Linked DNA regions of Homo sapiens. The protein of the gene in region 2 purifies or fractionates together with the protein of the main gene of each other region. This does not show direct contact. Each region holds a gene or a part of one and is shown on either strand. Other genes may lie near its edges.

The links.
Region 1: the proteins of OAT (region 2) and GOT1 fractionate together in Homo sapiens (co-fractionation; 2 studies listed by BioGRID). This does not show direct contact.
Region 3: the proteins of OAT (region 2) and DLD purify together in Homo sapiens (affinity purification with mass spectrometry; 2 studies listed by BioGRID, with this or other methods). This does not show direct contact.

What each region holds. Positions count from the first base shown.
Region 1 is NC_000010.11:99,398,994-99,406,895, forward strand, and holds part of GOT1 (aspartate aminotransferase, cytoplasmic), read right to left. Parts: intron 7,857-7,902; coding exon 7,733-7,856; intron 7,257-7,732; coding exon 7,144-7,256; intron 6,868-7,143; coding exon 6,763-6,867; intron 4,882-6,762; coding exon 4,731-4,881; intron 4,642-4,730; coding exon 4,476-4,641; intron 3,730-4,475; coding exon 3,587-3,729; intron 1-3,586. UniProt on the Homo sapiens protein: Biosynthesis of L-glutamate from L-aspartate or L-cysteine. Important regulator of levels of glutamate, the major excitatory neurotransmitter of the vertebrate central nervous system. Acts as a scavenger of glutamate in brain neuroprotection.
Region 2 is NC_000010.11:124,395,901-124,401,923, reverse strand, and holds the end of OAT (ornithine aminotransferase, mitochondrial isoform 1 precursor), read left to right. Parts: intron 1-84; coding exon 85-198; intron 199-939; coding exon 940-1,084; intron 1,085-3,821; coding exon 3,822-3,982; 3' UTR 3,983-4,621; downstream 4,622-6,023. UniProt on the Homo sapiens protein: Catalyzes the reversible interconversion of L-ornithine and 2-oxoglutarate to L-glutamate semialdehyde and L-glutamate.
Region 3 is NC_000007.14:107,914,912-107,922,329, reverse strand, and holds the end of DLD (dihydrolipoyl dehydrogenase, mitochondrial isoform 1 precursor), read right to left. Parts: intron 6,825-7,418; coding exon 6,634-6,824; intron 5,537-6,633; coding exon 5,366-5,536; intron 5,058-5,365; coding exon 4,868-5,057; intron 4,407-4,867; coding exon 4,269-4,406; intron 3,321-4,268; coding exon 3,231-3,320; intron 3,137-3,230; coding exon 3,071-3,136; 3' UTR 1,132-3,070; downstream 1-1,131. UniProt on the Homo sapiens protein: Lipoamide dehydrogenase is a component of the glycine cleavage system as well as an E3 component of three alpha-ketoacid dehydrogenase complexes (pyruvate-, alpha-ketoglutarate-, and branched-chain amino acid-dehydrogenase complex).

The DNA.
Region 1 (7,902 bases), about 25 Mb from region 2:
AAAAATCTGGACCCTGGACTCAGTGCTCCTTGAAGGAAACCAAAATAGTTCACCCCAAAATATACTTTGACATATTTTGAGATGGCTGTTGAGAGGGCCTACATACAGAAGTAGCCCTGCAAAGCTGTCTTTTGTGGGAGAGATCTGTATCTGTAGAGAAAATCTGCATGGCTGCAGCTAGGCTTTCTCTGAGGCCCTCCCTTGTCCAGATCTAGGGGAGATTAACTGAGAGTGTGATGCCTTTAAAGGTCTAAAAGAAATAGACCTTTACCGCTATTTTCTCCGAGGGCTGCTACCTGTCTTATCTACATAATATAACAAGACCACCTTTGCTAACCAGGCCTTCTCTTCTCTGCCTGCCATAATCTGTTCTGGCAAGCTCCAAGCTCCCATTCTTTCTATAACCCCAAGATGGTATAAAAGCATCAATCATCTGGCCATTTATTTGAGTTCTATTTTGTAAGACACCTGTGCAAGTTAATAAATTTGCATGCTGGCCAGGCACAGTGGCTCATGCCTGTAATCCAAGTACTTTGGGAGGCTGAGGAGGGAGGATTGCTTGAGCCCAGGAGTTGACGACCAGCCTGGGCATCATAAGGAGACCCTGTCTCTACAAAAAAATCTTAAAAATTAGCCGGGCATGGTGGCACACACCTGTGGTCCCAGGTACTACGAAGGCTGAGGTGGGTGGATTGCTTGGGCCTGGGAGGTTGAGGCTACAGTAAGCCATGATTGTGACGCCGCACTCCAGCCTGGGCAACAGAGTGAGACTCTGACTCAAAAATAAATAAATAAATTTGTATGCCTTTTCTCCTATTAATCTGCCTCTTGTCAGCTGATTTCCAGCAAACTTTCAGAGGGCAAAGGGTAAGTTTTCCCTTGACCCCTCCAAACCAGTGAACAAAGAAAGCAAGCTTAAGAAGAGGTTTACCTGTGTGAATTGGTCACCCAAGGGGATAGAGCCTCAAGCCAACACAGCCCTGGGTGTGCCACTCTTTCTAAAAGCCTGTGCCCTGAGGCAGTGATTAAATGACTCCTACCCTGGCTTTTGGTTTTGTTTTAGTAAAAATGAGGCCTTTCTACTTTTTCAGAGAAGGGAAGTGTCACAGTTTGAAAAGCTAGTAAAAGTTATGGACTCTTTCCCTAGAGCAGGGCCAAAATACACATATACAATTTTTTAAACATCATTTCAGGGGCTTCACAGTTCTCCTAAACGTACATCCAGGGATTCCAGGTTAAAAGCCCCATTCTGACAGAAAAAAGATAACAAAGGAAGTATTGTAATGTGAGAATTGTAGAAACTAGGTGGCGGATATATAGGGGTTCACTGTACAATTCCTCCAACTTTTCTGTATGTTTAAAACTTTTCTGGCCAGGTGCAGTGGCTCATGCCTGTAATCCCAGCACCTTGGGAGACCGAGGCGGGCAGATCACTTGAGCTCAGGAGTTTGAGACCAGCCTGAGCAATATGGTGAGACCCCGTTTCTACAAAAAATTAGCCGGGCATGGTGGTTCACGCCTGTGGTCCCAGCCACTTGGACACTGAGGTGGAATGATCACCTGAGCCCAGGGGGCAGAAGTTGCAGTGGCCCGAGATTGCACCGCTGTACTCCACCCTGGGTGACAGAGCGAGACCGTGTCTGAAACAAACAAACAAACAAAAAAGGCCAGGCACAGTGGCTCACGCCTGTAATCCCAGCACTGTGGGAGGCCAAGGCAGGTAGATCACTTAAGGTCAGGAGTTTGAGACCAGCCTGGTCAACATGGTGAAACCCTGTCTCTACTAAAAATACAAAAATTAGCTGGGTGTGGTGGCTCATGCCTGTAGTCCCAGCTACTTGAGAGGCTGAGGCAGGAGAATCGCTTGAATCCAGGAGGTGGAGGTTGCAGTGAGCCAAGATTGTGCCACTGCACTCCAGCCTGAGCAACAGAGCAAGACTCTGTCTCAAAAAGAAAAAAAAAGTTGGGAGGAAAACAAAACCCCTGTTTTTAATAAGGGCAAATGATGCCAAGCGCTAAAAATATAACTTTTGTGTTATAAGCACAGTTCTATTCTCATCATTTTTCCAATTCGTGATATTAATAAAACTAATTTCCTCCTGTGGATAATGGGAAGATATGGATATTTTACAGGGAGACATTCCCATATTGTGAGCTTTTAGACTATTACTACTAAAGACTATTAATATTTCTGTTACATGTAATATTTTTATAATTGTGAGTGAACTAATTCTCTGTTCCTCAGTCAAGAGGACATCTACAGCTAACTGAGCTATTTCTTTACTTTCTTAGGTAGCTTCATTTTACCCCAAAGTATTTTGAGGGGTCCACAATACAAGCTCTATTAACTGCCATTTATATTTATTTCCTTTGGATTTTTCTGAGCCCACTTCACACTGGCACTGTGATGGCCCCAGTTAAATACCTCCCCACGGCCTCTGCCGTTCTGCCTACAAACCAAGCCAGCCACACATCCCTCCCTAGAGTCACTGGGACACACAGGTGAGTCGCCACATCTGCACTGTGGGAATTACTAAAGAAATGACGCCTGTAATCTCAGCTACTCGGGAGGCTGAGGCAGGAGAATAACCTGAAGCCGGGAGGCGGAGGTTGCAGTGAGTCGAGATCACACCACTGCACTCCAGCCTGGGCAACAGAGCAAGACTCCATCTCAAAAAAAAAAAGAAGAAATGACTCTTCTGTCATCAGATGGGACTGCAGATGGCAGATGTGCCCTACTGACAATTGACCAAGACCATGCATGACCACCTACTAGATTTTCAATCAGCTTTTAATTCCAACCACCAATCTAGGTTCTTTTCTTTTTTTTTTGAGACGGAGTCTCGCTCTGTCGCCCAGGCTGGAGTGCAGTGGTGCGGTCTCGACTCACTGCAAGCTCTGCCTCCTGGATTCAAGTGATTCTCCTGCCTCAGTCTCCCTAGTAGCTGGGACTACAGGCGCCTGCCACCACGCCCGGCTAATTTTTTTGTATTTTTAATAGACACGGGGTTTCACCATGTTAGCCAGGATGGTCTTGATCTCCTGATCTCGTGATCTGCCCACCTCAGCCTCCCAAAGTGTTGGGATTACAGGTGTGAGCCACTGTGCCCAGCCCAATCTAGGTTCTTGTTTATGAAATGCAGAGATAACTTTGTAATCTCTTTTTGAGGATAATACCTAGAAATAAGAAAGACCTGTCAAGAAATCAGTTCCCTGAATAATCATTATATTCAGGATTAAGGCAAACCCAAAATGTACCTGAGCATTTATAAGAACCTTTCATAAATTAAGGCTCCCAGCTACCAATCCTGTTACCTCCCAGCTGGCTCTGAGCCACTTCCCAGCCCACAAACACGGAAATATCTTGGCTGTGGGTCAGCAGGGCAGACCACAATACTCTTCTGAGACCCAGAGAGTTTATGAGATGGTGGGACACCCTAAGAAAACCTAACTTGTCCTGGTCCAAAGCAATGGCTGCCCAATTAGGCAAAGGCTGTGAAAGTGAGCTCAGCTCAAGGCGAGCGACTGAAAGGAATGTTGTGTGTCTACATGCACGCATGGGCTGGAGGTGGTGGGGGCCACTTACGGTTCAACCCAGTGAAGCTGAACATGCCAATTTGATCAGTGATGTGGTTCCAGGTCCCAGGGGTTTTGAGGGCTTCTAGTCGTGCCCTGAGTTCAGATCTCATGGTCAGAATCCGGTCAGCCATTGTCTTCACATTACCTGTCCTGAAGCATGGACAGTGACGTAAATACCAATCCAGACAGGAAAGATGGTACCCGAAAACACACAGGTTTAAAAACTCTAATTTAAACGACAGCTGACAATGGGATCATAACCTGCCTATTATGGCATGTGGATGTCTGGATGGGTGGATTAACATACCAGAGAGAGAGACTTAGGGGGCAGAAGGAAAGGACTGCATTTACTAGTGAGTCTAGTGCTAGTCTTGGGTATACTGGCTAGAATACACTCACATTTCAACTCAGGCTTCACCGAGGTGCTGCTATAGATATTAATAGGGCAATATGTTTCATCAGGACTTACTAAATAAAGATTGCAGATTTAGCTACTATATAAAAATTACTGTTCTAAAATAAGATAAAGTGTATGTAAATTACAGATAAAAACCAAGAGCTCCCAAACTGTTAAACTGCCTAGACGTTCGATATTCTATTTTGCTGGGAATACCTTCTTGGGTTTTCCAACTTCATGGAGAGGAAGACTGGGTGGGGGGGGAAATTGGGGAAAACTACCATTCATCGAGTGCCCCCTCCTGTCTTCCAGGTGTTGTGTTATGCACGTGTGAGGTAGATATCAGCCCCTGTTTTACAAATATCTGAGAGTCAAAGAAGTTAAAGTAATTTTATCCTGCTTCTGCCAAAATGAAAGGAAGAGACCCAGTTAAATGTACTGGGACAATTACTGTTCTGCACTCCCCACCCCCCGGCCCACCAGACTGGGAGCCCCTTACCATTCCTCAAAGAGCTCAGGGTTAGAGAGGGTGCTGGCCACAATTCGTGCTCCCTGGGCGGGGGGATTGGACCAAGTAATCCGCACGATCTTCTCCATCTGGGAAAGGACTTGCAGGATGCTCTCAGGTTCTTTTCCAACCACAGTCAGATTCCCGACTCTCTCATCTAAAGAGAGGGACCAGAATCAGCTGTGGCTGCTGAAGCAGGGAGTGATGCGAGGAGGTGGGGCTGTAACTCCTCAGGAGAGCACTCACTGTAGAGCCCGAAGTTCTTGGAGAAGGACTGGGCACAGAAGAACTCGAAGCCTTCAGACACAAAATAGCGAATGGCCCAGGCATCTCTCTCCAGGTTTCCAGATGCGAAGCCCTGATAGGCTGAGTCAAAGAAGGGGAACAGAAACCGGTGCTGCGGGGAAGCAAAGTGAGTCAGGGCAGGAAATCCTTCTGGCACCAACCTCAGACACCGGCCTTCCTTCCCCAGCTGATGCCTGGAGGGAATTTCAAATGCTGTCCATTTCTCCTATTTCTTGACTATATGCACCCAAGCTCCACTTTACATCCATTTCTCTCTACAACCAACAAGTGTAACCTTTTCCGTAAACTTTACTTTTTAAAAGTAAATTGTCCTAGAGTGTCCCAATTCAGCTTAGAGAAACAGGGCTTACTTTTGATGCAAGGAGACAATGTCCTACATTGTGGATTTTCCTCTGTGAATTTCTGGCGTGAGAGCCTTAGTCAAGTGTAGGCTTGGTATCCCCAGGGCTCCTCATGGGCTATTCTGCTAGGTACTCAAGAGGAAGGGAACAGAGTAGCCTCCATTCCTGTCACTCATCTCCTCAAAGAGCTCTCCACAGGGAACCTGCTTCTACAGCTGTGCTCTCTGAGTGGACACCACTTCCCTCCCCGGAACTGTCCAAATCTTTGGTTGTACTTTGATTCCCATCTCTTAGGTTTATCTTGACTAGGTGGGACTGGGGGGAATCTGGACTCCTAACTCTGCAGCTCATCCCCCACATCCTGGCACTCCCCAAGTCTCATCAGTCCTGTCTCTTCAGAGCTCCCAAATCCTTTTGCATCTCACTGTCCCCACTGCTACCTACTTCATCCAGGTCACCATCAACTCCTACCTGGGCTATGGCAATGGTCTCCTAACTGCTCCCACGGCCTGTCTAGTCTTGCCTCTCTCTGACCCATTCCCTGCTATGACATCAGGGTGGCCTTAAGACCATGCACATCCAATCATGTCACTCCCCGACATCCAAGATTTCAGTGGCTCCGCACTGCCCTGAGAATAAAGTCCAAGCCTCAGCACAGACCCTGCCCCTATTCACTCTAGCCTCATCACTCACACTCCCCATGATGTCTGCCTGGGGCTTCTGACCATGCTCCGTCCTCTGCAGAGCACATCCCTTCCCTGTCAACCCCTGTCTGCTGATGCCTTCTTAGCTCCTCCCCATCCTACAGGACTCAACATAGAAACCACTGCTTCCAGGAAGGTTCCTGCCACCAACCCGCCAACTCCCACATATACACTGCCCAAAGTCTGGGCTATGTACCCCCCTATAACACTGTCAACACAGCTATCTCACAGCATCACAGCTGCCTTAGTACTCGTCCATCTCCCCAAACAGGCTGTCTGTCTTTGAGGGTAGGGACTGCATCTGCTCCATTCAATAGTGTATTCCCACAGTGTCCAATACACAGCAGTTCCTTAATAAGTATTCTACAAACTCGTTAAGGAAGAATATACACACTTTCAGCTAGGAATTCCCACCTAGAAAGTTACGCCAAAGAAATAATAAAAGGAAATTTTGTTACATAATTTTTCATCAGATCAAGCAATCTGAAGTAAACCTAAATATTCATCAGATGATTTACCCCATCCCTAATATGACATATCCATGAAAGAAATATAATATAGCTATGAAAAATGATGCTGCAAAATATTCAATGACATGTATATAAAGAAGTGAAAATGAAAAACAAATTGTGTTGCACAAAACAGTACAGACAAAATGATCTCATCTTTGTAAAACATATACATAAAACTAGACACACACACACACACACACACACACACACACACACACAGTCTGACATTCTATCTACCAAAACATTAACAGTATCTTTCTTTAGGTAATAAAATTTACAGTTAATACTTATTTTCTTCTTTGGACTTTTCTCCATTTTCCTAATTCCTCAGCAAACAGCAAACAGGTATTGCTTCTACATACATTAAATAAGAATATATACTATTTTTTAAGAGATGCTCTGAAGGGGCAGTTACCTTCATGACAGAAGCAATCTGCTTCCACTGCTCCGGAGTTGGGTCAATCCCAGTTGGGTTGTGTGCACAGGCGTGGAGGACAACAATGGAGAACTCAGGAGCATTCTGAGGAGAAGGAAGCTATGTCAGCTCTGACACTGATGGGAATATTGGGAGACAGAGTCAGCAGCAGATTGGTCAGTGATGGAGGGCAAAGGGCAACCATATTCTTGTCACTCTTTCATGTCTCTTTTGTGCCCTCTCTCTTACATGCTATGTCAGAAACCACCATCAGGTATGGGGAAGGTGTCTCAGACTCCTTCACTTAGCAACTGGTCCAAAGACTTTGCCTGAGATTCCTGACACCATGCAATTCTCTACTTTTTCCTCTAAATCACCCACCTCCAGATCATTCAGGAAGCCCTGGAGGTCCAATCCTCTCTTCTCTGCATCCCAGTAGCGATAGGACCGAATGTCTTTAAAACCAGCAGCGGAAAACACAGCATTGTGATTCTCTGCATGCAAAGAAGTAAAAAGTTAAGCACTTTACAAACACTAGGAGGCATGAGTGGAAAGGATGCAAGTCAGCTTCCAGGGCCCTCCCAGGCTCAATGTCCACTGGGCATCATCCAGGCTGGGGGTTAAGATGTAGAGGAATGATTGTAACCAAGAACAAGTTCAACCAGTCACATTAATGCCAGACTTATATTCTACTACAATGATACTTCCTGCATCTACATTCTATGCCTCCTCTGGGGAGTTTCAACATAGCCTTGGTAGATACAAGTCTACTAAGAGTCTTGAGAAAGAGTATTCTTAACTTGATTTTGAGCAGCAGGTTTCTCATGCACTGCCATAACCCACTGTTCAAGCCATTCCCAACAGTCAGTTGTTCTAGGGCTGGATTACATTTTCTGTGTAACCAGGGAGAGTCATGAGGATAATTCTCTCTGGTTTCTGTTTTTCCTCTCACTTCAGCTGAAAGACTCACCCCAGGTTGGTGAGGACACATAGACAGGTGTGTTCTTGTTGTTTGTTCCATTGTACCAACGCGCTAAGAAATCAGCTCCAATTCGAAGTGCACCTGTTCCCCCCAAAGATTGCACACCTCCTACCTGAAAGAGAAGAAACAGGGTCACAGGCTGATAATGGTGAGGTCAG
Region 2 (6,023 bases):
GGTGACAGCGAGACTCTGGGGAAAAGGATGCTTAGTAGAATGCTTAGTGCTGAGAAATGACATGGTGAATTGACTGTCTTTCAGGTGTCTGCAGTGCTGTGTGATGATGACATCATGCTGACCATTAAGCCAGGGGAGCATGGGTCCACATACGGTGGCAATCCACTAGGCTGCCGAGTGGCCATCGCAGCCCTTGAGGTAAAGACTGATACAGCCACACAGTGTCTATTCTTTAAAGCAATGTTGAAGTGATTTTTAATTTGGGCCCACTGGTATAATAAAAAATTCAATAAGAATGCCAAATATTAGAAAACATGAAGTATAGAGGAAAAATTTTAGGAACAAGATATTCTCAAAAAGTAATTTAAACTTGGCCTAGTAGACTGGATTTCCTCCGTGGGCTTCCTGAGTTCACAGTCACCTGGCGCTTTGAGTTCTTCGGCCCTGGCTGGCCCTCATAGAACTCTCAACTGTGACCCACCTACCAGACCCGTCTTTTTGCTTAGCAAGCAAGTCTTCTTTCAAGTGTGGATTTATAATGTTTTCAGACTGATTTTTTAAGTGCCTGCTGAAGGTATACAATTATTATGTAATCTCTGAGGACAGATCTTTGTGAGGGGGGAAGAAACTATTGCAGTTTAGGAATTACATTTCGTCCATTGATGTATTCAATTAATGACAGTATGTGAGTTGCATTAAATAAACTTTAATCCTTATTTTGCCATGAATGATTGGCAATAGATTTGTGATGAAAGCAAGACTCTGAGCTAGTGTATGTTTAATTAGAAACTAATACAGGCTTTGAAAAATAGCAATGAAAGTTAAGTTCCTCTGGTATTTTATCTAGTCATGTTTTTCCTGTGTTTACAGTCCCCGTTGTCCTCCAAAAAACAAAAAAAGGACAGTCTTAATATTTGTATAATTTTTCTTTAAACGTAGGTTTTAGAAGAAGAAAACCTTGCTGAAAATGCAGACAAATTGGGCATTATCTTGAGAAATGAACTCATGAAGCTACCTTCTGATGTTGTAACTGCCGTAAGAGGAAAAGGATTATTAAACGCTATTGTCATTAAAGAAACCAAAGGTATGGAGATAAAACATTTACTCAAGATAATTTTTTAAGGAAGACCTAAAATACACTTGGTATTTAATTTAATTAATTTATTTATTTTTCGAGACGGAGTCTTGCTCTGTCTCCTAGGCTGCAGTGCCGTGGCGCAATCTTGGCTCACTGCACTCTGCCTCCTGGGTTCAAGCAATTCTCTGCCTCAGCCTCCTGAGTAGCTGGGATTACAGGCGCCTGTCACCACGCCCAGCTAATCTTTATATTTTTAATAGAGATGGGGTTTCATAATGTTGGCCAGGCTGATCTCAAACTCCTGACCTCGTGATCCACCTGCGTTGGCCTCCCAAAGTGTTGGGATTATAGGCGTGAGCCCACCGCGCCCGGCCACACTTTTTTTTTTTTTTTTTTTTTAAGATGGAGTCTTGCTCTGTTGCCAGGCTGGAGTGCAATGGCGCCATTTTGGCTGACTGCAACTTCCGATGCCCCGGTTCAAGCGATTCTCCTGCCTCAGCCTCCCGAGTAGCTGGTATTACAGGCACGTGCCAACACGCCCAGCTAATTTTTGTATTTTTGGTAGAGATGGGGTTTCACCATGTTGGCCAGGGTGGTCTCGATCTCCTGACCTCGTGATCCGCCTGCCTCAGCCTCTGAAAGTGCTGAGATGACAGGCATGAGCCACTGCTCCTGGCCACACTTGGTATTTTAATTGGGTGTTGGGATGTTCTGTTTGAAACTGCTGACTGACATAATGACCAAACCTTTTAGACAGATTATTGTCTGATTTATAATTATATTAAGAGTATAAAAAATATAGCTCTTTTCTAAATGAAGGCACATTTAACCAATTTGACCCTTGTTCCTTTAAGACACTTATTTTTCTGCCTTAAATTAGTCATGCAGTATTTAGAGAGTTCAAGTTTTTTTGTTGGTGAGTCTGGACTTGAAAGTGTCCTCTTTGCTATCCTTCCCTCCCTCACTTTGATGCTTTGTGTCAGTAGAGGTTATAGGAGCAGCAGAAATAATGATATGAATGACAGTTATGGGGTCAATAATAAAAATAATGCTGGCTGTCACTTAATTGGGTGTTTGATGTTTTAGTACATCCTTTGTAACCCTTAGGTGTTCCTTGCTGGATTTTCTTGTGATAACTCTTCCTTTTAAAGCAACGATTCCAACCTCCCAACCTTGGCTGCACTTAAAGAATCACCTGAGGGGCCGGGCGCGGTGTCTTATGCCTGTAATCCCAGCACTTTGGGAGGCCGAGACGGGTGGATCACGAGGTTAGGAGATCGAGACCATCCTGGCTAACACAGTGAAACCCCATCTCTACTAAAAATACAAAAAAATAGCCAGGCGAGGTGGTGGGTGCCTGTAGTCCCAGCTACTCAGGAGGCTGAGGCAGGAGAATCGCTTGAACCTGGGAGGTGGAGCTTGCAGTGAGCTGAGATTGCGCCGCTGCACTCCAGCCTGGGCGGCAGAGTGAGACTCCGTCTCAAAAAAAAAAAAAAAAAAAAAAAAAGAATCACCTGGGGAGCTTCTTAAAAAAATGAGTCAAAGCCTGGCCTTACCCCAGGGATTCTGATTTGACGGATCTGGGACGGGGCACAGGCATTAGCAATAGCCTTTAAGGTGATTCTGATGTGCAGCCAGGTTGAGAATCGCTGCTATAATATGTTGAGCTCAGGAAGCGAGTCCCTTTTTGGAATGTGTAGTGTTCACTGGGTTTTGAGTATTGCCCATTTTATGTCAGTTAATCATCTGTATCATACCCAAGTTCTTTTTTTTCTTTTTTAGAATTTTATTTATTTTATTTATTTTATTTTTTGAGACAGTGCCTTGCTCTGTTGGGCTGGAGTGTCTGTCGCCAGGCTGGAGTACAGTGGCATGATCTTGGCTCACTGCGACCTCCACTTCCTGGGTTCAAGCGATTCTCCTGCCTCAGCCTCCTGAGTAGCTGGGACTACAGGCATGTGCCACACCACGACAGGCTAATTTTTGTATTTTTATTAGAGATGGGGTTTCACCATGTTGGCCAGGATGGTCTCGATCTCTTGACCTCATGATCTGCCCACCTCGGCCTCCCAAAGTGCTGGGATTACAGGTGTGAGCCACTGCATCCAGCCTATACCCAAGTTCTTTTGCATTAGTTCCTTGTGTGATTAATACAGCAGCCTTAGCACATTTTTTTTTTTTTTTTTGGCTTGGTCTTTTTCATTTATGAAAAACTATGATATGTCTAATCATATCATTCAAACCTAGTTATGTGCTTGCTGAAAAGTGAAGAGTAACTTCATTTTTAGGAGTAAAAACAAAGCAAGCTTGCAGCTCCAAGCTTCCCTTTCTTTTTTTTTTGAGACGGTGTCTTGCTCTGTCACCAGGCTGGAGTGCAGTGGCGCGATCTCCGCTCACTGCAGCCTCCGCCTCCTGGTTCAAGCGATTCTCCTGCCTCAGTCTCCCGAGTAGCTGGGACTACAGGTGCGCACCATGATGCCCAGCTAATTTTTGTATTTTTAGTAGAGACGGGTTTCATAATGTTGGCCAGGATGGTTTCAATCTCTTGACCTCGTGATCCACCCACCTCGGCCTCCCAAAGTGCTGGGATTACAGGCATAAGCCACCGCTCCCAGCCCAAGCTTCCCTTAGTTGAGCAAGTTCTGTTAATTTTGTTTTGCCAGGCTGCACTTTGCCCATACATACGGCAAGGGATGTTTAAACGTTTATCTTTGAGCATGTACGTTTTACTATTTTTCTTTAGATTGGGATGCTTGGAAGGTGTGTCTACGACTTCGAGATAATGGACTTCTGGCCAAGCCAACCCATGGCGACATTATCAGGTTTGCGCCTCCGCTGGTGATCAAGGAGGATGAGCTTCGAGAGTCCATTGAAATTATTAACAAGACCATCTTGTCTTTCTGAGGGTAGCCAGCTGTTTTCAGTGGTCCCTGGGAGCCAGCTGGAGACAGGTGGTCCTGTAAAAGCTTTATTCCTAATGTGGGCACATTCCACTCCCATGAGTCTTCAAAAACTTTTTTTTTGAATATATTTTTTTCAGTTGATACATAATAGAACAACGTTTATGAACCTGCCGTTTGCTTTGTAACGTAACTAAATAATGTAATGGCATCTATATTCAGTTGAAGTGTTTTGATGTGCATGTGTACTTCCTAAGGTGAAATGCATCTATATACAGACAGCCTCTAAATCAAGTCCTTCAGTATAATTGATATATGTTTTTATAATTTCCTCACTGGTATAAGTGTTTCATATTTGAAAAAGTTATCTCTGGGTATTGCATAAAAGGCTTCATCTTATAAAGTGAAATCATTGTTATTGAATTTTAGGAAGGATTAATGGTTAAGTGTATATAAAATACTAATATTAAGTAAACTTCATATTGGCCAACACCAGGGTTGTATTCTATGGATGTCATTATTTTGAATTAAGAATTAGTGTTTAACATTCCTAAATTGTTTTGAGTGCTTGATTATAATTTGTAAAAAATGTTTATTTTCAATACTTCTTTAAATTTAAAATAAAGCTTATATTTCAAATGTCTGTTTTGTGATGATTATTCACCTTAAAAGGAAGAAGCTGAGGCAAAATTAATATAGAATGTTTAGGTGGGCCAAGGTTGGGGACTGCAGCTCGGGACACACTTCCAGGTTGCCCTGGAGAGTGCTCCAGAGAACACTTCTTAAAGAAAAAAGGATAGATCAGCTGCTCTTATACCCTCTACTGACACAAGGTGAAGGGGTGATTACAAAAGTTGTTTATCAGGAATTCTCATTGGCTTACAGAACTAACCTTGGTTAGTGATTGGCTATATGCTGTTGAACTACAGGGTATATGGCATTTGATAGATACTTGGCTTCAAGAGGTAATTATGTAGCTTGGGAGAGAGTGACCTGACTATGATTTCATTCTATTGCCTCTCTGGGCCTGATAATTTAGTTTTTATTTTTTGAGATGGAGTCTCTCTCTGTCGCCCAGGCTGCAGTGCAGTGGCACGATCTCAGCTCACTGCAACCTCCACCTCCTGGGCTCACATGATTCTCCTGTCTCGGCCTCCCGAATAGCTGGGATTACAGGTGTGCACCACCACACCCAGCTAATTTTAGTATTTTTAGTAAAGATAGGGTTTCATTAAGTTGACCAGGCTGGTCTTGAACTTCTGGCCTCAGGCGATCCCCCCAACTTGGCCTCCTAAAGTGCTGGGATTACAGGCATCAGCCCCTGTGCCTGGCCTGGGCCTGATAATTTAAAGGGGCTCACGTTCTTCAGTTACAAGATTTCTTTATTCCCCATGTCACTATGCTATTACTGCAGTGTTATCAGTTACATTTTTTTTTTTTTTTGAGATGGAGTCTTGCTCTGTTGCCCAGGCTGGAGTGCAGTGGCGCAATCTCGGCTCACTGCAAGCTCCGTGTCCTGTGTTCACGCCATTCTCCTGCCTCAGCCTCCCCAGTAGCTAGGACTATAGATGCCCGCCACCACGCCCGGCTAATTTTTTGTATTTTTAGTAGAGATGGGGTTTCACTGTGTTAGCCAGGATGGTCTTGATCTCCTGACTTTGTGATCCACCTGCCTCGGCCTCCCAAAGTGCTGGGATTACAGGCGTGAGCCACTGCGCCCAGCCTATCAGTTACATTTTTAAGCTTTTTGAGATTTATTTATTCCATGTGTTTTCTTTTTTTTGTATTCCTTTTTTTTTTTTGAGACAGAGTCTTGCTCTGTTGCCTAGGCTGGAATGCAATGGCGTGATCTCAGCTCACTGCAACCTCCGCCTCCCAGGTTCAAATGATTCTTGTGCCTCAGCCTCCCAAGTAGCTGGGACAATAGGCCTACACCACCATGCCCAGCTAATTTTTGTATTTTTAGTACAGATGGGGTTTCACCATGTTGGTCAGGCTGGTCTCGAACTCCTGACCTCAGGTGATCCACCCACCTCGGCCTCCTA
Region 3 (7,418 bases), on a different chromosome or scaffold from region 2:
GATGCTGGAGAGGCTGTGGAGAAATAGGAACACTTTTACACTGTTAGTGGGAGTGTAAATTAGTTCAACCATTGTGGAAGACAGTGTGGCAATTCCTCAAGGATCTAGAACTAGAAATACCATTTGACCCAGCAATGCTATTACTGGGTATATACCCGAAGGATTATAAATCATTCTACTATAAAGACACATGCACATGTATGTTTATTGAGGCACTGTTCACAATAGCAAAGACTTGGAACCAACCCAAATGCCCATCTATGACAGAATGGATAAAGAAAATGTGGCACATATACACCATGGAATACTATGCAGCCATAATAAAGGATGAGTTCACATCCTTTGCAGGGACATGGATGAAGCTGGAAACCATCGTTCTCAGCAAACTAACACAAAAATAGAAAACCAAACACCACATGTTCTCACTTGTAAGTGGGAGGTGAACAATGAAAACACATGGACAAGGGGATGGGGGTGGGGGAGGGATAGCATTAAGAGAAATACCTAATGTAGATGATGGGTTGATGGGTGCAGCAAACCACCATGGCACATGTATACCTATGTAACAAACCTGCATGTTCTGCACATGTACCCCAGAACTTAATTAAAAAAAAAAATCCCAATAACTAGCAAAAATGGTCATACCCCATCATCTACTAGAGCAATTATGTAGTATTTTACTTAGAACAGTAGAAACACTCTCCATTCCTTTTCAGCTAAACAACTAAAGATCTCACTTTGAAATTACTTTTTTTTTTTTTTTGAGACGGAGTTTCGCTCTGTCGCCAGGCTAGAATGCAGTGGCATGATCTCAGCTCACCGCCTCCTGGGTTCAAGTGATTCTGCCTCAGCCTCCTGAGTAGTTGGGATTACAGGGGCCTGCCACCACACCTGGCTAATTTTTATATTTTTAGTAGAGATGGGGTTTTACCACATTGGTCAGGTTGGTCTCAAACTCCTGACCGCAGGTGATCTGCCCGCCCCGGCCTCCCAAAGTGCTGGGATTACAGGAGTGAGCCACCGCTCCCAGCCAGTTGAAATTACTAATTTTAATCAGTTCAATGAAGTGGACAATTAATTTCACTCTTCACAAGCCACAAAAATATTGACAGCTTAGTAGATAACAGTAAGTGAACACTTAAAACTTGTTTTATTCCTAGGACTTTATTCCCCATACAGATAAATTTGCATTCTCATACTGAATGTAAACACTTAAAGATGGATTTAACTCTACAGCTAGAATTCCATATTAAATTATATTTCACTATTCCCTAACTAAAAACTTTTTTTTCCCTGAGTAAGGGATATGTTGAGATTTACATAAACAGCACTTCACATGATACCGGGATTTCAAATTTTTAAAAAGATGCAGAGTTCACTTCCAATAATGGCAAAGTAGCACACAGATATCAGACCAACCCTCCTGCTGATAGCAACTGCAAACTCTGAACAAATATATTTTAGAAAAAACTAAAGGCACTGGAAACAACTATAAACAAGTGGAAAGTAGAGGGAAGTTGGCACTTAAAAAGTGAACAGCACTGGCTCAATGTCTCATTTTTAACGGGTTCTCACTTGAGGGGGAAACAAAAGCCAAGTTTTATTGGTTAAGGATCAGAAGGCAGAATATGGGGCAACCACAACAGCTGGAACATAAAGGGGAAACCCCCAAAAAACAGGAGGCACAGAAGGGGCAGACTTCCTTCTGCCCAAACTCTGGTTGACCCCTGAACTACACACTTGCATGGGAAAGACTTCCAGCAGCATAGCTAAAGCTAAAACAACTGAGAAGAGATTTCAGCTGCTGCCACCTACAAACAAGACAGAGTGTGGAGTTGGTGTTCAGCCAAGTTAACTGCCTCCTAAGACAACAATCAATTTTCTTTAGAAGTATGTAACAGAATCCAGGGTCATTATGTCACTCATGAGCATGAGACAATCTATGCTATCTATACCAAATTTCAGAACTACTTAATCTGAATTATTCTTAAATTTAGTTACAATATGCAAAAGCCTACTTAGCATTTAGTACTTTGTTACTTAAGTTTCCTCAGGACATGGCCATTTTAAACACCACACATCCAATTTTACAACACTCTTTAAATAAACAGTCATTAACCCAGCCAAGGAAAACACAGATTAAAGACTCCCTTATGTTGTACTTCTCCAAAAGTATATATTAAACATTTAGTAGGTGTATCTAAAATAGATGAAAGGATGATGACCTTTAAAATGCCTTAATATTGTCCTATAACATGAAAATAAAGATACATTCAGGCCTAGAAAAGAAATTAGAATATACACTAGAAGTAGTCATAAAAAAAACTATGACCATCTCAACACGTACTCATGATAACCAGTAAATGAATATTTAAGACGTTTATTTCAGTATCTTCATTCCCCACTGTAATACATTTGAATGCCCACGTATTTGAGTTCCGTAAATAGACTCTCTTAATTTGGGTAACTATATAATTACCCTTCAGAGTTGCAGACAACAATGGAAGCTTTAAAACCTCTTCAACACAAATGCTACCCCTAAAATGAAAGAATTTAGAGGTTAAATAAAACAAGTGAGAGACCGTTTACTTACATCAGTTCGGTTTATAGACATTTGAATCATATCTGAATGACTGACTTGTTTCCAATGTGAAAACCAAATTAAAAATAACTTGATCACTGTGCTTCAAACACAACTGTTCACATATCAAATTCTAGCTCCAGCCATGTAAAATTCAACTTTTCTGTATCAGAGAAAAAAGCTATTTAAATTCAGGGGCATTGAATCTTTCATGAACAGCATGAAAATATGAGTTGACGGAGATATTCCAGGATGCTACAATAAGTAGCTTTTTGTCTTACACATTAGTGCACTGAAACAAAATACTAAATTTATGTAAAATATAGATATAAGAGTATTCCATTTTGTCCAAACCTATTAAATACCTTCCAAAAGTTTCATAATTCAGTCCTAGAAATTCTTGGAGCTGTGAGAATATCCTGTTCAGGAATGTGACTTCTACAAAAGCTCCCAGGAAATTTCAGAAAAAAATATATATAATCTTCTAATTCAAAAGTTGATTGATTTGCCAAATGACGCAGCAAGATTTGCTTCTCTAAAAGCTTCTGATAAGGTCTGCAAGGGAAGAAATTTAAAATTAAAATCCAAATATTTGTGGGTCAGAAGAAAATTTAGGCAACCATCAATTCTATATGTTGTTAATAATTACCGGATGTGCATGACAGACTCTAGCTATATCTTCACAGGATGCTCCATATTCCAAAGCAAGAGCAGCTTCATTTACCATTTCTCCAGCACCCTTTAAAATAACAAGCCAAGTAAATTTGCTTCCAAGGCAAAAACTACATGCTAATAGGATAGCAATTGTTGAGGGGAAGCTTTTAGATCTTAAAAACGCCTTAAATCTGTTTCTTTATCAGTTGAAGAAAAGTCAGGAAAAGCTTAATAGAAAAGGTGACACAGAAGAGCTTGGGCTCTGGAGCCAAAGGGCCTTCAATTCATATCTACCACTTACTACCTTAACCATTCATTGGTTCTTTGTGCTTCATTCAGTTTCTTCACCTCAAAAATAACAGCACCTATTTCAAAAAGCTGATGTAAAAATAACAAAATGTATACTAAAGTGACACAGCACTCAAATATTCTATTCTCATTATTGTTACATCAGATACAAGAGATATCTACAAGAAAGATACATACTTTAGGCTCAGTGGTAGGAAAGGCTTCCCTTAGGAGGTAACATTTGAGCTGAGACCTGAATAATAAGGAGCCAGCCATTCAAAGATCTGGAGGCAGAACAGTCTAAGCAGAGGGTATCTTAAGCACAAAGGCCCTAAAATGCAAATATTTGGTCTGTTGTGAAAATGAGAGAAGGCCCATGTGACATGGCATTAATGAGTAAAAGAGAGCAGAAAAAGAAGAGGTCAGAGAAGTAGGCACAAACAGATTCAGTGAGGCCTTGGATGTAACAATCTGAAGTTGAAAAGCACCACTGGAGGATTTTAAGGGGCATAATCTGGTGTATGTTTTAAAGAGAGAATCTTGGCTGCAGGACAAAGTAGATGATACAGTGGGCAAGACTGTGAGAGTGCTGCTGGTATCCTTCTAGAAATGATGCACAGAGAGCCATATTCAAAGTTTTGCTGGAAATGAGCAACCTCAGACTAACACCAGGTGGTTTATAATTAATAAACAGCAATGCTTTCTAGAAATCTTAATGGGATTTCTCTGGTTTTACAATACTCACTGGTCCAAGAATATGTGCTCCCAGTACTCTGTCTGTCGATTTCTGCCCAAGGATCTTCACCATGCCATCTGTGTCAGCATTTGTCTTAGCTCTGCTGTTAGCAGCAAATGGGAATTTCCCAACTTTGTACTCAATACCCTGTGACAGTCAGAAAAAAAGAATCTACGTAACTGCCAGAAAAGTTCTTTCCAATTTGTAAAATCATCTACCATTTGTTCAGAAAATAAATCCCAAGAAGGGAATTGTTCGCAAAGCACATAGAAGGAAAGGAAAGACCAGAAGACTGGTTAATGAACTATATCTCAGGCACGAATACAAGCAAATACAAATGTCTGTCCATCTGGTTATATTTCAAAGCCAAATATAAAAGATCTGGAATTACTAGTTTTTTAATATAGGCAACTTCTCTTCCTCTCAATTACTGCTGATAAATCTGTGAATGATCTCTTTATAATGCTAACAAGGGAAAAATATATAAGCTAAACAATATTTCACAGCTGTTAAATATATTAGCATAATGATAAAATGCTGTTTCTCAACCACCAATGTCATTGGCACAACTCACACATTGGCTTAAAACCACCCATGTTCAGACTTACCTCTTCTTTCAACTGCTCTTCTGATTTGCCAACCCAAGCAACTTCAGGGTGTGTGTAAATCACTGATGGCACACAATTGTAGTCAATGTGCACAGCACCACCAGCCATTCCTTCAACACAGATAATGCCTTCATCCTCTGCTTTGTGAGCCAGCATTGGACCAGCAACTACATCACCAATGGCATAGATACTACCACAGAAATCAAAAGAAACACAATGAATTTCTGAAATCACAGCTACTTACCTTCAGTTACATTATGGTAACAAAAGTTTCCAGTAAACAAGTCACCAAAAAATACATCAAATGCAGCTCTTCAAAAATCTATGAATTCAGCTTATCTTTGAGTAAAATTCAGTTATTTTTTATTTTACATTTTGTAAGTTTACTATTCTTCCCCAAAGCCAATACATATTTTAAGCATAAAAATCTTACTTTTCAAAATACTGTTTGAAATCAATTTTAAAATTACTGAAAATGCAGACAATTATCCAACTTACTTTGGAATTTTAGTTTGAAATCTGGTATTGACTGGAATTCTACCTCTGGGATCTAGTTCAATTCCCAGCTCTTCTAGTCCCAAATTCTTAGTAAAGGGTCGTCGGCCAATGCAAACCAAGAGTACATCACAAGTGATAACTTCAGCTTTACCACCAGAAGCAGCTTCAATACTAGATAACAAACAGTGTATAAATGTTAAATACACACCTACATAAATTGATAGGCTTAGAAATTTAAGGCCAGCAATTTCTCAAGTGTTGATGACATTTTCATTTTTGTTTTGTTTTGTTTTTGAGACAGAGTCTTGCTCTGTCGCCAGACTGGAGTACAGTGGTGCAATCTCGGCTCACTGCAACCTCCACCTCCCAGGTTCCAGAGATTCTCCTGCCTCAGCCTCCCTAGTAGCTGGGACTACAGGCACGCGCCACCACGCCCAGCTAATTTTTGTATTTTTAGTAGAGACGGGGTTTCACCATGTTGCCAGGCTGGTCTTGATCTCTTGACTTCATGATCTGCCCATCTCAGCCTCCCAAAATGCTGGGATTACAGGTGTGAGCCACCATGCCCAGCCGGCACTGATGACATTTTTAACAATATAAGTTTATTTGAATATAAACATAAGAGTCAGACAATGAAAGAGATCTATCATTAAAATCTAGAGGTCTGTTATTAAAATCTCACAAAAACCACAGTATAATAAAACAGCAGTTAAGAATACAGGTCTTTGAGTCACAGAAATCCAAATTCAACTACTGACTGCCACCCACTAGCTGTGTGACAAGTTAGTCATTAATTAGTCAATGAATTCAGCTTCTTATCTTTGAGTAAAAGTCATTAAACTATTTAAATACTATTAACTATTTAATTTAAATATTTATTTAAAAACTAATTCAATAAGTTAAATGCCATTAAAGTATTTAATCAGTAGAGTACCAGACATATAGTAAGCAATCTTTTATTATTGATTTCCCCATGTATCTGCCTAAAAATATTGATTCAATTTTACTTATTATTGGGAATTTAAATTTTTCTGAATGTACTATAAGAAGGCACAACAATGAGAATATTGGATTCTCTTTCTAGCATTAACCTAATCATAAATTTCAATGTGCTAATGCAATAATTTGATAAGCAACTGAGTTATATTAAGTAATAAAATGACCTTAAGTTAGAAAAAACCCTATATTTGCTAAACTGATTTTGAAACTTGAGTGTTTTGCTTAAAGAGACAGGGATGATACATCAAAAACAAATGATGTATACTTACGAAACATCAATTTTTCCATCTGACTTCTTGGTAGCACCAGTAACCTTTGTATTCAATTTAAATTTAAACCCCTGTTTTTGAAGGATGCGTTGAAAGTTTTTAGATATCTCCATATCAATTCCAACTCCACCTACATGACCTAAAAATTCAACTGCTGTCACATCTGCACCAAGTCTTTGCCAAACTGAACCCTGCAAATAAATTAAAAAAACCCAATAATCATAAAAGTTTCTATAGCAAATGTTTACGAAATCATCTTAATAATTTATTGTAAAACATTTTCTTCTTTCGCTAGTATGTTCCTATGAGAAGCTCCGAGGTTTAAAATTGACCCTGTGTTAAATATGTATAACTTCATACATTTATTAACTTACTCATTCAACATTTGTTGAACATCTACTACATGGTAGGCAATATTTTAGCTTCTAGGCATACATTAGTAAACAAAGCAAAAATCTCTGTTCTCAGGGATCTTATATTCTGGCAGGGGACATAGACAAATATGTAAAATTCATAACAGAGAATAAAGTGCTACAGGAAAAATAAAACAGGAAGTAGAACTAGGACCACTGATTACTGGGATTACAATTTTAAATAGCACGTTTGGGGAAAGCCTCACTGGGAGTGACATTTGCACAAAACTTGAAGGAGTGAGGCAATGAACTACCCAGTTAACTGGGGCAAGAGTGTTGCTCTAGGCAGAGGGAAACAGCAAGTACAAAAGTCTTGAGGAAAAGGAAACAGGTTACTAAATCACTGATGTTTGCAGAATATTAAACTGGCTT